3 separate regions of the Homo sapiens genome follow, and all the other regions are linked to region 1. Evidence: fine-mapped expression QTL. A gene starts in region 1. Each other region holds a variant in brackets. All regions are shown on one strand. Distances are from middle to middle. Region 1 holds the start of RNF157 (ring finger protein 157). Region 2 overlaps RNF157 (ring finger protein 157). Region 3 overlaps RNF157 (ring finger protein 157).

Region 1 (5,657 bases):
ACACTGTGACCGTCATTACAAGGACAGATGATGGTGCTTCTTTCCGAAACAACTGTTCCACCGGCAGTGCAGGTCTAGCCGCTTTCCAGCGAGCCAGATAGTGGTCTCAACTTAACACTCAAACTACAAGGTATGTCATCTGGAGAAAGCTGACTCTGCCACTTGCTTTGTTCCACTGTTAGTACTCAGGATAAGGAGACTTCTCAAAATCAACCCAGGTTGATTCCTCTATAGGGACTTCAATTATGACACGAAATAGCCTTCATTCCATAATCATGGAATGATTGTTTTAAGTCTTGTTTTTTGAGTACAAGTTCAAAACCCAATTCCTTGAGAGGTGGAGGCAGACAGTATAGTAGGAAGAACACTAACTGGCTGAGAGACCCTGGCCATACCAATTCATTTCTCTGGGTCTCCATTTTCTTATCAGTGAAATGAATGGGAGGCCAAGGCGGGAGGATTGCTTGAGACCACGAGTTCAAGACCAGCCTGGGCAACATAGTGAGAGAGTGTCTCTACAAAAAACTTGCCTGGGCGTGGTAGCTCACACCCGTAATCCCAGCACTTTGGGAGGCCGAGGCAGGCGGATCACCTGAGAGGTCAGGAGTTCAAGACTTGCCTGGCCAATATGGTGAAACCCCATCTCCACTAAAAATACAAACAATTAGCCGGGTGTGGTGGCAAACACCTGTAATCCCAGCTACTTGGGAGACTGAGGCGGGAGAATTGCTTGAACCCTAGAGGCAGAGGTTGCAGTAAGCCAATATTGCACCACTTCATTCCAGCCTGGGCGTGACAGAGAGAGACGATGACTCAAAAAAAAAAAAAAAAAATTAAACATTAGCTAGGCATGGTGGTCATGGCCAAACTCTGTCAACGGTTCCTTTCAGGACTAATACTGTAATCCCATAAAGAGCCAGGTCAATTCAAAGATCAGAAGAAAGGCGATGCCTCCGTCTAGAGCATATATGCAAGCTCACATAAGGTTTCAAATACACAAAGGTTTGCTGACAGAGACAGGATGTTCTGATTCTATTTTCTATGTTTTAGCTTCAACAGAAATAATGTGGTCCACTTGCTATAAAGACTTCTCTCATGTATAACTTCTGATTTAACATGAATTACAGTTTTACAGTTAAACTTTTAAAACTGGTAGAGAGGAGAGGATTATTTATTGAGTGTGCTAATTAACAAAAGTTTTGGTTTGGTCTATTGTCTTTTTATTATCATCACCCAAGATTCATACTTGTACAAATATGCTTTGGGGAACAGCCTTCCAGAGGTTTACCTATGTTAAGTCCCACATATGAAAGAGCGGTGAATACTTTCCTGAGGCAGCAAACACTATTGAAAATTCCAAGCTCAGCAAAGTATGCTCCATATTTTGATCAATAAAAGCCATGTGGTTTAAGAAAAACAGAGCCCACAAATACTGCTGCATATTTTTGTCTATTTTAAAAAGTTTTCCTCATGCCGCCCTAAGAATATTTTTGTCTATTAAAAAACAAAATCTATGCCTTGGTTAGCGTTGATTTTATGTAGTCATAATCAGTCAGAGCTTTATTAAAATACTAACGACCCACAGCTTTATCTTAGACCTTTCTAAAACAATTCTTCACCATATTCATCTTTGCAAGGATTCATTCTTTGGTACAAAAGCAGTGAGAAACACAGCTCTGGCAGACACTCTGCAGGGATGCGGGCAGGTTCATCGTCTGGCCCCTGCTTTCACCTGGCAGACACTGGACACACTGCTGAGAAACCAGCTCATCTCAGTATGTCTCTATTCTACCAAAAAGAGACGAGGCTCTGCTCCAATTCTGACACCTCATTCCGAAATCACCAAAATCTCCATCGGGTCCTAAGCAGACAGAATGTCGCAGCCATTCATCCTCAGAAGTCTTGAGAATAAAATTAAAAGTAATTAATTAAAATAAAACTACTTGCAATTAAAAGTAAACACCGGCTAGGTCATGCAATTCATACTGGCCGGTGCTCACATAACTGAACTACCTTGTGATTCTCTGCTTTGCTGTCAAAATCCTCCTCCACCTCCAATGCTGATACCACAATCCAGAGGCTAGAGACATTTAAGTGAAGGGATGATTCTAATAACAAACATACTTCTATACGTTTCCAATACCTCTGCCCTGTCCCAGAGCTGGTCCCACTCCAAAACCCAGGCTTGCCACTACGCTAGCAAAGGGGCAATCCGAGTAACTCTGATACTCAGATTCCCAAACATTTCTGTTACTTTCCACCACCACCACCCCCCCCACCCCCCGGCTTCTGACAGCCTCTGCAAAAGCACCAGCACTGCAAATGCCTGTTTGGCTTCCATCCTTCAGCAGGCAATGGAAGCTTTTCCAGGAGAAACCTAATTCTAACCTTTCCAGAGGCCAGGAGACGGCAGCGCAGGGATAGCACCTGGCGCAAGTGCCTGTTTGGATGCCGAGGTCGCCTCCCTCGCGGCCCTCGGACCCCGCGAGGCAGGTAGGCTTTGGGCCGGGCCGGCCGGGTCCGTGCGGGGCGCCGACCTCGCCTACGACGCCGCAGCCCCGCTCCCCAGGAGCCTCGGTCCCTGCGGGCACGCGTCCCCGTCACGGGGCCGATTACAATGGAGGCCGCTCCCGTCCTCCCGTGGAGGGGCTCGGTGCCCTCGGTGACCCTGCTAGACCCGGCAGGACGCCCCTTGGGCTAATTCGCCCGGGGCGGGGGAGACCTCGGCCTTCTCGAAGACCTCCCGCGCTCGAAGACCGTTTCGGAGCGTCCGCAACCACTGAGTCCCCGAAGACCCGCGGGGCCCCCTCAGGCCGTCCCGACCCAGACCCCTGCCCCTGCCCCTCTCCCTCCTCGCGGCTGCGGCGCCCGCCCGCCCTCACCGGACTTGGGCGGGTAGCGGTACACGGAATTAGACGGGATGTCCACCTCCTCCACGCCCGCGTGCTGCCGGCTCGTCAGGGCCCCCATGGCCGCTGCGGCTGCAGCCCCGGCCCGGCCCCGGTGCCCGCGCCGCCCTCCGCGCTTCACCGCGGCCGCCCGCCCCGCGCCCGGTGCGGGGGCCGACTGCCCGCCGCGGCCGGCTCCGCTGCGGCGCTGCGGCTCTGGCGGCGGGGAGCCCCCGGCGCGCCGCGCACCATCCTCCGCCGGGCACCGCGGCGGCGCCTCTGCCAAGGGGGCTGCGGGTCTGGGCCGGGGGCGCCGCCGCCGCCTCAGGCCGCGTGATGTCAGCGGCCGCTCCGCGCGGGGACCGCGGCGGCCCCAGCCAATGGCGAGGCGGGGCGGGAGCGCCCGCGCCGGAGCAGCCAATGAGCGCGGGACTGCAGCAGGAGCCGGCGGCGCGTGCCTCGCGCGGGGAGCCGCGGCTGGACTCGGCGCGCGTGGACGCGGCCCAGGGCCTCGCGGCGGGGGCGTGGGCGTGGGCGGGGACTCGCGACGGGGACGGGGGCGCGGCCGGGTGCCCGCGGCGGGGCGGGGCGGGACCGGCCGGAGCTGGGACCCCAGGAGACGAGCGCTGCACCCGGCCGGGACGCGTCGCCCCTCCGCGCCTGTTTATCCCGGCTCGGATTACCGCGCAGGGAGCCGCCCCCTCCCGCGGTCCGCGAGGACTGGCCGGGAGCTCGCTCGCCATTGTCCTGGGCGTCCCAAAGCGGGCGGTCCCCGCTCCGCTGCTCCCGCGCCTGGAGGAAGCCTTCCCAACCCCGCCCCTCAGCGTCGGCCGGCGGAGGTCTTCGGAAATCTCATGCAGGGGGGTAGGGAGAGGGGTCCCACGGTGCATTCGCATGTCTCCTGCCCCGTGTTAATGCTGGTGACCGGCTAGGAAGATGCCGCCTCCCTCTCACGTGCGTCTATTCAAAGCGCTCCCAACTCTATACATGCTGTTTAAGGCTCCTTGTAGCCCTAAAGTTAGGAGAACATCGACTGAGGATAAGATCAAGACATCCAGCCTCTGTCTGTATCGTGGAAACGGGACCCCGGAAACTTTGGAAAGGCCTGAGTGCCAAGAGAGTCAACGCAGGCGAAAGCGAACCGGGCCAGGCAGAACCGGGAGCTCCTGTTGATAAAAACACACACAACAGTGGGAAGCTTGGGCCGGCGGAAGACGTCATTCCATTGCTTAATTACAGACATTTGTGTTTTAAACCTTCTATTTTCTTTGTGGGTCTGGTGTTTTTTTTCCTGAGAGAGTGGACTGATCAGCAAACATTTCAACTGCTAGAACATGACTTTCACAACTTTTCAACAGTGTTCGAAGTACAGTTTGGGGTGTCTGGTTCCCTTGATTAGGTTTGTAAAGCTATTTTACGGAGTCTAGGTCTTTCCTGGTTATATTTTGTTTTTGTTTTTCTGTGTTTTGAGACGGAGTCTCCCTCTGTCGCCCAGGCTGGAGTGCAGTGGCGTGATCTCAGCTCACTGCAACCTCCGCCTCCTGGGTTCAAGGGATTCTCCTGCCTCAGCCTCCCGAGTAGCTGAGACTACGGGCATGTGCCACCACACCCGGCTAATTTTTCTACTTTTAGTAGAGATGGGGTTTCACCATGCTGGCCAGACTGGTCTCCAATTCCTGACCTCCGCCCCCCAAAGCGCTGGGATTACAGGCGTGAGCCACCGCGCCCGGCACATTTCGTATTTTTCATTGCCGTCTTTTCAGCAGCAGCCAACAGACCTGATGCTAAGTGCCTTGGTTTCCTCCAGGGTCCTCAGGATGGTGGGAACACATCCCTGTCATTTATATTGGCTGCTGCTAACGAAGGCTTGGGTTACAGGGCAAGTCCCTGCCCCGGCAGCTTCTCCCAAGCACCAGAGCTCTCTGGCAGAGTCCCTGGTCCTAACTACTCCAGGGCTTTCAGTCATCCCTGTGGGAGGGAACTGGTGTCCTCCTCCATACTCCTTTCAGCACACACAGGCCCTACCTTGTAACTGCTGGGTAAAGGTAAAATGCAAATAAGAATCTAGAACCACCTCAAAACACAAGGCCTTCGACACATCACAGAGTAAAATGTTGCCTTATGCTCCTCGGCTCTGTTCAGAAGCCTTGGTTCTTCCTGCCCTCGGCATTTTGTAAACGGGACATCCCTTCCCTTTGTGGGTTTATCCATGTCTGAGAGTTTCTTCTGCTTAGCCAGGGCCAGGCAGGGATGTGGCTTAGTCAAGCAGCCCAGTCCTGTTGCTTATGGGGTGTCTCTTCTGGTCCCACCTTGGCCTGACCCTGGGAAGCCAGCTTCTCCATCTTGAATAATACTCCCCAAGCCTAGAAGTTGGTTCCTCCTCCCACGAAGGAGTCATGAGTCCAATGCTTAGAATAGTAAAGAAAAACAAGGCATAGCACAATAAAATTAGTGGATATTTATGGAACACTCTATGTGCCAGGCTGTTTTAAACACTTCACACGTATTAAAGCATTCAACCCTCCCAACAACCCTATCAAATACATGCTATTTACACCCCGATTTTACAGTCGAAGAGAATGAGGCACAGAAAGAGCACTAGACTTTGAGTTGGACAAATCAAACCCCTAAGCAGCTATGTAACTTTGACTTAAGCCCTTAGAAACGGTCTCCGTTTCCTCCTCTGAAAATAGCCCAGTCTCCAATGGTTATTGCAAAGATGCAATAAGTGAATCAAGACTCTTTTGTTTTGTTTTGTTTTTGAGACAG
Region 2 (5,775 bases), 32 kb before region 1:
CGCCATGCCGGGCACATTTTAGTTCTTAAAATAATGCCAGCGGCTGAGCGCAGTGGCTCAGCCCTTTGGGAGGCTGAGATGGGTAGATCACGAGGTCAAGATATTGAGACCATCCTGGCCAAGATGGTGAAACCCCGTCTCTACTAAAAATACAAAAACTAGCTGAGCGTGGTGGTGTGTGCCTGTAGTCCCAGCTACTTGGGAGGCTGAAGCAGAAGAATTGCTTGAACCTGGGAAGCAGAGGTTGCAGTGAGCCAAGATCGTGCCACTGCACTCTAGCCTGGCGACGGAGCAAGACTCCATCTCTAAATAAATAAATAAATAAATAAATAAATAAATAAATAAAATAATAATGCCAGCTGTGCAGCTCTGATTGCAGGGAGCATGAGGAAGAAGAAACTGTGTCAATGCGGCCCAGCTACAGAACACACGAGAGGATACAGACTATTAGGAACTAGGTTAAAACTCAACTACTTTCCTTATAAAATGAGAGGAGCGGTTTGAACTCCTGCCTACAAAAGGCAGGCAGAGGTGGGGCACAGTGGCTCATAGCTATAATCCCAGCACTCTCAGAGGCCAAGACAGGAAGACTACTTGAGCAAAGGAGTTTGAGACCAGCCTGGGCTATGTAGTAAGACATTCTCTCTATAGAAATTTTTTTTAAAAAGCCAGGCATGGTGGGGCGTGCTTGTAGTCCCAGCTACTGGAGAATCTGAGGTGGGAGGATCACTTAAGCCTAGGAAGTCGAGGCTGCAGTGAGCTGTAGTTGTGCCACTGTACCTCAGCTTGGGCAACAGGGCAAGACCTTGTCTCAAAAGGAAAAAAAAGGCCAGGAAGGAGTCAAGGCATTACTTGACTAATTTCTAAGCCTCTAATAACTTAGAGTTGGGCAGTAATTATCCCAACAAAACAAGATCTAACTCAATAAAGGAGCAGAAAAGCAACACCAGCTCTTCTGCCACCTAGGAAGGGAAGGGATGGTCTTTATTTAACATTTTGTAACTGATTCACAGATACCTTAGTTCCTTTATATAAGGGACCAGAGCAGAAAGACCTTCAGAAGCCCAGTTTACTACTTAAGACAGTATTTAAAAACCAGTGAAGAGGCCGGCCAAGGTGGCTCATGCCACCTAGCACTTTGGGAGGCCGAGGTGGGTGGATTGCCTGAGGTCAGGAGTTCGAGACCAGCCTGGAACAACATAGTGAAACCCTGTCTCTACTAAAAATACAAAAAATTACCTGGGCATGGTGGTTCGCTCTTGTTGCCCAGGCTGGACTGCAATGGCGTGATCTTGGGATCTCGGCTCACTGCAATCGGCTCACTCCAGCCTGGGCAACAAGAGTGAACCTTTGTCTCAAAAAACAAACAAAGAAAACAGTGAAGAACCCTACCTAGAATGACAAGTAGCTGTAGAAATAACCAACTGGAAAGGTAGCAAGTATAGCTAACATTGCTGCATGCTGCTTTTTGTCCAGCAATTACAAGGAATCTTCCAAGCATTACATTATTCTAAAGTCAGAACTACCTCCATGCTACAAGCAGGTAATCTGAGCACCTGAGTGATACGTTTGCCAAGGTTACAAAGAGTTTAATGGTAAGATATAAATAAAACTTGAAATCTAGATTCCAACTTTCTTCCACCATCTTTCTGTATATACACACACTCTAGTTTCTTTAAATCTGACCCTTAAGACTTGATAATAAATTTGGCTTTGGGCCGGGCTTGGTGGCTCACACCTGCAATCCCAACACTTTGGAAGGCTGAGGCAGGAGGACTGCTTGAAGCTAGGAGATTGAGATCAGCCTGGGCAATAAAGCAAGAAAGACCCTGTCTCTACAAAAAAAATTTTAAAAATTAGCCCAGTGTAGTAGCATGCACCTTTATTCCCAGCTACTCAGGAGACTGAGGCAGGCAGATCATTTAAGCCCAAGAGTTTGAGGCTGCAGTGAGCAATGATCACGCCACTGCACTCCAGCCTGGGTGACAGGGCAAGTCCCTATCTCTAGGGGAAAAAAAAAAATTGGCTTTGATGGATTATCCTAAGTGGTAGATCTGTGGTGCGAAGTACAGCTCAGTCAAATGACAAACTTTTTAGTCTGCTCATTCAGAAATGACAGGGAATTGCACAAGCCAGGAAGTCTATGGCATTTATAGCTTAATATAACAATTCATTTTAACATATTTCACTGCCCATATTCACTCTCTCTGCAAAGAGGAGTCGTTCTTGCCGCATGCTGCTGGATGGCTTTAAAAGGTTGTTCTCTTTCTTGCTCCCCTGTAACCTAACACTCATGTGCTGACACCCAAGATCTTTTGCTAGAGAGTGGAAGTCAGCTGTTTAGAACTCAAGCTACATGTCAATCTTCAATCTCTGAGCCTTCCCCTAAACAAGCATGTTGTGCAGTAATGGCAAAACCCAGAGGTCAGCTCAGCAGATGGAATTACACATGGAATACGAACTCTGAAGAGGCGCTCCAAGAGAACATATCACTGCCACTCGTCTACTTTTATTTATTTATTTATTGAGACAGGTTCTTGCTCTGTTGCCCAGGCTGCAGTGATCATAGCTCACTGAAGCCTTGGCATCCTGGGCTCAAGTGATCCTCCCACCTCAGTCTCCTGAGTAGCTGGGACTAGAGGCATGCACCACCACGCCTGGCTAATTTTTATCATTTTATATTTTGTAGAGATGAGGGTCTCGCTATGTTGCCCAGGCTGGTTTTCAATTTCTAGGCTCAAGAGATCTATAGGCCTCGGCCTCCTGAGCAGCTGGGACTACAGGCATGAGCCACTGTGCTGGCCTCATTCCACTTTCAGATACCAATATTTCAGAAATTGCACTTGAAGATCTACACA[A/G]TGGACTCACAAACAGGATGTGGGCAGAGTTTCTGAGTACACCTGGCCTAATTAGCAAAAATGGCAGCATGGTTCAGGCTCTGGAGCCAGACTGTTAGGTTCCAATCCTGATCCCTTACAGGCTGTGCAGTCTTTAAACTCTCTGTGCCACATGTTCTTCACCTGTTGAATGAGGACCTTTTTCATCATGATGTGAGGACAAAATGAGACAACACAGATGAAAAGCTTAGAACAATCAGCCCTGGCAAAAACTAGGTGTTCAAATGTTAGCCATCATTATTATTATCAAATAACCTGTGGGGAAAAGAAAAAGAGAAACATGTGGCATTTATTCTCTATACTACATTTTTATGCAGCTATATGAAGTTACTCTGATTTGCTTTCCTAATATAAAATTATGTCTTTTAAAAACATTTGCCAGCGCGGTGGCTCACACCTGTAATCCCAGCACTTTGGGAGGCCGAGATGGGCAGATCACCTGAGATCAGGAGTTCAAGACCAACCTGTCCAACATGGTGAAACCCCATCTCTACTAAAAAAACACAAAAATTAGCCAGGTGTGGTGGCAGGCACCTGTAATCCCAGCTAGTCAGGAGGCTGAGGCAGGAGAATCACTTGAGCCTAGGAGACTGTGGCTGCAGTAAGCCAAGATCGTGCCACTGCACTCCAGCTTGGGTGACAGAGTGAGACTCTGCCTCAAAAAAAAAAAAAAATTCATTTGCTATGTGTAACATTAAGCATACTTAATGATTACTACATAAAAGCAACAACAAAAACTCCAATGTTGATGTTCTTTTTTTTTTTAAGTGGCATTTATTGATTGATTGATTAAGATGGAGGTCTTGCTATATTGCTCAAACTGGACTCGAATTCTCCTGGGCTCAGGTGATCCTCCCATCTCAGCCTCAGCCTCCTGAGTAGCTGGGACCACAGGCACATGCCACTGTGCCCAGCTTGATCTTCTTTGGGAAAAAGCCTCAACTTTAAGGTTAAGGCTGCTACCTAGCATTTCAGAAAGAGCTCAGTCATTCATAGGTCGGCATAGGCAAACTTAGGAAAAGTCTGCCAGCCAGCATAAACTTCAAGTTGAACCTAAAGCAGCATTTACTTCAAGCTTGTCCAACCTGCGGCCCAGGGGTAGATGGCTTTTAATGTGGCCCAACAGAAACTCGTAAACTTTCTTAAAACATTGTAAGATTTTTTTGCGTTTTTTTTTTTCTTTTTTAGCTCATCAGCTATCGTTACTGCTAGTGTATTCCGTGTGTGGCCCAATGTGACAATTCTTCTTCTTCCAATGTGGCCCAGGGAACCCAAAAGATTGGACATCCCTGATTTACTTATTTTTATATCATCTTTATGGACTGAAAAGGCCAAAATTTTTTTAAAAATATATAAACTATCTTTACATCAGATGAAAGGAAAAAGACAGAAACAGATGCAAACATCAAGTCCATGTTATTAATAGAAGAAACGGCTACTTTCATTTTTGTTTTTGTTTTTTTGAGACGGAGTCTCACTCTGTCGCCCAGGCTGGAGTGCAGTGGAATGATCTTGGCTTACTGCAACCTCCGCCTCCTGGGTTCAAGCGATTCTCCTGCCTCAGCCTCCTGAGTAGCTGGGACTACAGGCTCACACCACCACGCCCAGCTAATTTTTGTATTTTTAGTAGAGATGGGGTTTCACCACATTGGTCAGGATGGTCTCGATCTCTTGACCTTGTGATCCGCCCGCCTCGGCCTCCCAGAGTGCTGGGATTACAGACATGAGTCACCGTGCCCAGCAGAAAGGGCTACTTTCAAAGCACAAGCTGACTCCCTGTGAGTGAGGCAACATTTTTATCTGGCTCTATCAGAAAAAAAGAAAGATCTGTCTACTCTAATTACCAAGGCAGTAGTAACAAAATCAAAGAGTAGACATCTGATAAGTATTACTTGACATAACTTAACTTGAAGCAGACAAGATTTGGTATTTTGAAAAGTGTACTACTGGACGAAAAATTAGCAGAGGGGTCACTCCAGATAGAAAGGAAGAGAACCCGCCGGGCGCAGTGGCTCATGCCTGTAATCCCAGCACTTTGGGAGGCCAAGGTGGGCGGATCACGAGGTCAGATCGAGACCATCCTGGCTAACACAGTGAAACCCCGTCTCTACTAAAAATACAAAAAATTAGCCGGGTGTAGTGGCGGGTGCCTGTAGTCCCAGCTACTCAGGAGGCTGAGGCAGGAGAATGGCGTGAACCCGGGAGGCAGAGCTTTCAGTGAGCCAAGATCGTGCCACTGTACTCCAGCCTGGGCGACAGAGCCAGACTCCGTCCAAAAAAAAAAAAAAAAGAAAGAAAGAAAGAAAGAGAACAATGAAAACCAAAAAAATAATTATTTTTATGTTAAAGGTCAAGATGGAAGACCATCATCAGATCAATCTTCCTAAAAAAGCAATTTCTCCAGGTCACTCACCTACCTACAAGTCTTAAATATTCCTCACGGTCTACAGGAGAGAGTAAAAAACCTATCAAGGTAACACAGCCGCCACCTACCTTTCTCTTTTTTTTGAAACAGAGTCTCATTCTATCCCCTAGGCTGGAGCGCACTGGGGCAACCTCAGCTCACTGCAACCTCCACTTCCCGGGTTCAAGCGATTCTCCTGCTTCAGTCTCTGGAGCAGCTGGGATTATAGGGGTGTGCCACCACCCCGGGCTAATTTTTGTGTTTTTAATAGAGATAGGGTTTCACCATGTTGGCCAGGCTGGTCTTGAGCTCCCAACCTCAGGTGATCTGTCCACCTCGGCCTCCCAAAGTGCTGGGATTACAGGTGTTGGCCACTGTGCCTGGCCCACCTTTCCAATCGGGCCAGACTGGTTTCCTTATTTGTTCCAGGGAAGAACAAACCATGCTCATTTCAGCTCTGTATCCACAGCGCCT
Region 3 (5,775 bases), 47 kb before region 1:
TAAAAATAGTTTACACTGGGCACAGTGTCCAGGGAAATCGCTTGAGTCCAGGGAAGTCAAAGCTGCAGTGAGCCATGATCATGCCACTGCACTCCAGCCTGGGTGACAGAGTGAGACCCCATCTCAAAAAAAAAAAAAAAGAATTAAAAAAATAGTTTACGGCCGGGCGTGATGGCTCACGCCTGTAATCCCAGCACTTTGGGAGGCCGAGACGGGTGGATCACGAGGTCAGGAGATCGAGACCACGATGAAACCCCGTCTCTACTAAAAACACAAAAAATTAGCCGGGCATGGTGGCAGGCGCCCTGTAGTCCCAGCTACTCCAGAGGCTGAGACAGAAGAATGGCACGAACCCGGGAGGCGGAGCTTGCAGTGAGCCGAGATCGTGCCACTGCACTCCAGCCTGGGCGACAGGGCGAGACTCTGTCTCAAAAAAAAAAAAAAGTTTACACGGCTGAATGCAGTGGCTCACACCTGTAGTCCCGGCACTTTGGGAGGCCAGGAGTTCAAGACCAGCCTGGGCAACATAGTGGGACTGTTTCTACAAAAAGAAAAAAAAAAAAGTTACGATATGGATTAGCAGAGGACATAAACCTCTTGTGTTACCAGCATTTAAGTTTTTAATAAGTAGAAAATATGGCTAAGGACTACATTCTATTCTATAATTATACCAACATTTACCCTAAAGTTCAGTGCTGCCTTCTATAGATAAAGTGGGCTGGGTGTGGTGGCTTATGCCTATAATCCCAGTACTTTGGGAAGCTGAGGCAGGAGGATCGCTGGAGCCCAGGAGTTCAAGATCGGTTAGGGCAACATAGTGAGACACCGTCTCTACAAAAAAATAAAAAATTAGGGCTGGGCGCGGTGGCTCACACCTGTAATCCCAACACTTTGGGAGGCTGAGGCGGGAGGATCATGAGGTCAGGAGTTTAAGACCAGCCTGGCCAAAACCCTGTCTCTACTAAAAATACAAAAATTAGCTGGGCGTGGTGGCAGGCACCTGTAATCCCAGTTACTCAGGAGGCTGAGGCAGAGAATTGCTTGAACCCGGAGGTGGAGGTTGCAGTGAGCTGAGATCACGCCACTGCACTCCAGCCTGGGCGACAGAGCAAGACTCCGCCTCAAAAAAAAAAAAAAAAAAAAAACATTAGCCAGGTGTAGTGGTATGTGCCTGTAGTCCCAGCTCCTAGGAAGGCTGACGTGGGAGGACTGCTTGAGCCTGGGAGGTTGAAACTACAATGAGCTATAATTGCACCACTGCACTTCAGCCTGGGTGACAGAGGCAGACCCTGTCTAAAAAAATATTAAAATGTAAAGATAAAGTATATGTCTGATTAATTTCTGTAATAATCAGGGCTACTATTTTATTTGATTGGCCGGGAAAGACCATCTTAGAGAATGAAGTGTGCTGCTTAGGGACAAAATTTACGTGTAATCAACTGTTAAGCTATTTGACTCGTAAGTCTTTGACAATACAATACAGACTTTTATATAACAGTTTCAGTAACAGTTAAGGCCACTATGCATCTCTTTAAATGCTGAAAAAGTTAACCAGATTTTTCTTTGAAATGCAAAACCAGTAAGTATAGTTTCCCGTCAGATGGGGTGCACAATGACAACAGGAAACAGAGGTGAGAGTGTGCACACTTGGTTTCAATATGTTTCAAAGAAATTTCGAGGAAATTCCTACAACACAGATGCTTTAGTTCCACTACTGAATACCACAGCAGTTCTTTGTACTCTGGTTTGTTAAGAAACATGGCATCAAACAACGAAGCAAAAGTTCAAGCACTTAGTGGCACTTTTCGAGTCAGCAACATTTACATTATAAAGTTCCTTTCTCCAAGCTTTTACATGACTATTTTTATACTTCATTTTTCACTCCCTGCTCTGTATTATAGCTATGTATGTCCAAGTCTGATCTTCTCCATGAAATTATAAACTTGAGGGCAAAATCCATGTAGGAATCCTCTTCGTGTTACCCCTAGTGATTAGACCAGCACATACAGAAGGCAGAAATAGATGTCTGTAGAATGAATACACGAACAACAAGATCTTCGGAAGAGTACAGCATATGCCCATGGTGACTCTTTAGATTTTGAATATTTGCCCCGCAGACTAAATGGCAGACTGGTACAATTAATGCTCACAAAATAACTGAAAAACACAGACCACCATGTGTTTTTAAATTAAGGGTTTGTGGAGTAATACTGAGTAAGCTTGACTAGCAGCTGAAACCCTCTGGTTCTGCCAGTGAGTTGTATGAAAGACTGGAAAATGAAGATGAAATGATTTAATAAAACAAGTATGATATCAACAGCCAGAAGACACAGGTTCTTGTTTCAGCTCTCCCACTTTCTTTCCTTTTTTTTTTTTTTTTTTGAGACAGCATCCGCTCTCTTGCACAGGGTGACTGCGATGGCCATCACTGCAGTCTCAACCTCTCAGGCTCAAGTGATTCTCCCACTTCAGCCACGTGAGTAACAGCCGCGCGCCACCACACCTAGCTAATTTTTGACTTTTTGTAGAGACGGGACCTCGCTGTTTCCCAGGCTGGTCTCAAACTCCAGAGCTCAAGTGATCCTCCCGCCTCGGCCTCCCAACATGCTGGGATTACAGGCGTGGGCCAGAGCACTCAGCCTTCTCTCACTTCATACACAAGACTTTGGGCAAATAACTTAACATCTCTGAGCATCAATGTCCTTATCTGTAAAATGAGATTTATAGCTTCTGTCTATCTCATAGGGTCATTAAGATCAAATAAAAATGTTTTGAAAACCATACAGTGCTATAAAAATATATGTTATCATTAGTGATCCTTAGTGATTAGCATTAGTGATAACATCTTCATTAAAGAACTTGTAATGCTATTTTGAATGCTTGGAAAAAATAATGCACAAATGAAATACAAGCAATTAGGTAAGTATCTCTTATCTACAAATCCCAAAGCACTTGAAGTAAATACAGTTAGGATATATCTCACTTGGTCGTGACCCAGAAGAATTATTGTAGATCTGCCCTATATTCTACTGGAATTTAACATCTTGGAAACAGCTACCCCCACCACCCCCCACCCACGGACACATACAAGTTTCTACCATAGTGACTGAAAGGCTCTCTGAGATTCTCGGTTTAGGATCACTAGGGAAATGGAAGACACTGTCTAAGGTAACGTGAGAGTTAAGCACGTTCTCCTTTTGTCTGTTGTGACCCTGACTGTCTAACAAACAAACGTGACTTCTGAAGCCTGATCCGAAACAATCAGGAGCTGAGCGAGAAAACAAAACAGAGGTCTGAGGCACAGCTCCTGGGCAGGCTCTCCCGCATCCTGCAGTGAGGCTGCCGC[A/T]CCCATAGTTTCAGATCTGAGATTAGCGCCTGGCCGAGGGCTGCTGATGCAGGAGCAATGCTGCCCTGCTACCCCTCCCACCTCCACATCCACAGACAGCCCTGGGGGACACGGCTACCACTTCTCTGGGGTACACGTCCACAAACGGGACTCCCTGGACTACATGGGAACCAGGCCACAGAGAAGGCAATCACATTTCTATTAATCACCTCTTTCCAAGGCACATTCTGTTTTTTTGTTGGTTTGTTTATCAAGGTATAATTTATATACAGTAAAATTCAGCCTTTTTGGTGTACAGTTCTGTGAATTTTGACAAACACACACAACAGTGTAACCACCATTACAAACAAAATAAAGAACATTTCCATTACCCCCACATTCCCTTGTGCCCTCTCTAGTCAACTCCTCCATGCACCCCAGTCCCTGGCAACCATTGATCTATTTCTTATCTCTATCGTTTTGCTCTTTCCAGAATGACACAACACTCTTTACAATGCTTAAGTAAAATAGCCAAAGGCCTCATTCAGTTCGCATAGAACACCACGCACTCAGCCACCATAGGAGACTTTCAAATACATCAGAAATAGTGAAGCCAGTCTGATGGTGGGAAGGGCGGTAAATTCACTAGAGCCTGAGATGACTCTGCAGGCTCTGCTGAAAGACCCCCGAAAGCAGGACGCTTCTTAGTGGGCTGTGAAGTGGATAGTTTAAACCCAAAGACAAATAACTCATTTAAAATAGTCTCTATAGAAATGGCCTATGTCCTCTTCCATGATTGTATAATATACAGTACCAGACACGATTAGGTTTCCTTCCAGTTTAGATAACTCTGCTTTCTTCTGAATTGCTACTAAAACAATAGTAAAGAGATTTAAAAAGAGAGAGAGAAAAATATAAAACCACAAGAGCAGGCCGGGCACGGTGGCTCACACCTGTAATCCCAGCACTTTGGGAGGCCAAGGTGGGCAGATCACGAGGTCAGGAGATCGAGACCATCCTGGCTAACATGGTGAAACCCCGTCTCTACTAAAAATACAAAAAATTAGCCAGGCGTGGTGGCGGGCGCCTGTAGTCCCAGCTACTCAGGAGGCTGAGGCAGCAGAATGGCGTGAACCCGGGAGGTGGAGTTTACAGTGAGCCGAGATAGCACCACTGCACTCCAGCCTGGGTGACAGAGCGAGACTCTGTCTCAAAAAAACAAAACAAAACACAAGAGCAGAGGGAATGGGAGAGGATATTATAATAAAAACTTGGAAGCTGAAACACACACTGACAAGTGGAAAGCGATTCAGGAGAACAGAAAGGGCCGAAATCCCAAATGGCAGAAACATATTCATGTCACAGAACTCCAGACAGGCTTAGGAAATGGAGGTGTAGGTCCTCCTACAAGCGGGGTAGAGCAAGGCTGGAAACAGGAGACTGGGGTTGGTGTGAAAAGCATTTAGACCCCTAGATCTTTTTCCAGACACCACGTAACCAGGAGATCACCTGTCTCTCCAACTTCATTGGTTATCGGGAAAATGAAAATAAATTCTACAAACCTACCACAATGGCTAAGATTAAAAAGATGGAAAATACTAGGTGCTGGACATTCTAAACACTGCTAGTGGGAAAAAAAAATTGGTAGAATCACTTTGAAAAGCGGTTAGCGGTATCTACTACAGCATATTCTATGACTCAGCAATTCTCCTAGCTATAGCCTTAACAGGTATGCATACATATACACAACAAAATACATGTAATAATAGAACGTTCATAGCAGCACTATGTGTAATAGCCAAAATGCCCCAAAAAAGCTCAATGCCTGCAAACAATAGAGTGGATAAATTATGGTGTATTCACACAATGAAATACTATGCAGCAATGGAAATGAACCGTACACAGCACAGGAATAGTTTGTTCCTTCTCGTTGCTGTACGCCATTGAGGTAGGATGTAGGACTTGACTCAAGAAGTGAGACTCAACTCCAGAGGTGGGGCTCGCACATCAGACTAAATTGAGCACAAGCTAAAACAGGGACTGGGCAGAAGCAGCTTTCCATAAGATAGCCCATACCTCCCATACCTGTCAGTGTGTGCCATGTCAGTTTACTATTGCCACGGCAACACCTGGAAGTTACCACCCTCTTTCATGGCAATGACCCAATGACCCGGAAGGTACTATCCTTCTTGAAATTTCTTTATAATTTGTCCCTTAATTTGCACATAATTAAAAGTGGGTATAAATATGATTACAAACCTGCTCTGAGCCGCTACTCTCAACACACTGCCTTTGGGTAGCCCTGCTCTGCAGGAGCAGTCACAGAGCTGTAACACTGCCGCCTCAATAAAGCTGTTTTCTTCCACCACTGGCTCTTAAATTCTTTCCTGAGCAAAGCCAAGGACCCTCCTGGGCTAAGCTACCATGAGATAAATAAATGTCACAAAGAT

What was found.
Region 2: its variant is fine-mapped to the expression of RNF157 in whole blood (INTERVAL, PIP 0.98).
Region 3: its variant is fine-mapped to the expression of RNF157 in whole blood (TOPMed, PIP above 0.99). The same link has a PIP of 0.9 or more in blood mononuclear cells.

What each region holds. Positions count from the first base shown.
Region 1 is chr17:76,237,271-76,242,927 of GRCh38, forward strand. It overlaps RNF157 (ring finger protein 157), which reads right to left and starts at 3,223. Exons shown (of 19, transcript NM_052916.3): 1 at 2,883-3,223. The coding sequence starts at 2,970. It overlaps LOC105371896 (a long non-coding RNA gene), which reads right to left. Exons shown (of 6, transcript XR_007065913.1): 6 at 3,592-5,657. RefSeq lists an enhancer at 2,191-2,863 and silencers at 3,168-3,307, 3,328-3,397.
Region 2 is chr17:76,205,418-76,211,192 of GRCh38, forward strand. All of the region lies in intron 2 of RNF157 (ring finger protein 157), which reads right to left. Among named protein-coding and RNA genes, the nearest start is that of RNF157, 32 kb to the right of the region's middle. The variant A/G (reference allele first, on the strand shown) is at 2,859.
Region 3 is chr17:76,190,478-76,196,252 of GRCh38, forward strand. The region is part of intron 2 of RNF157 (ring finger protein 157); the gene reads right to left. Among named protein-coding and RNA genes, the nearest start is that of RNF157, 47 kb to the right of the region's middle. RefSeq lists an enhancer at 295-794. The variant A/T (reference allele first, on the strand shown) is at 3,347.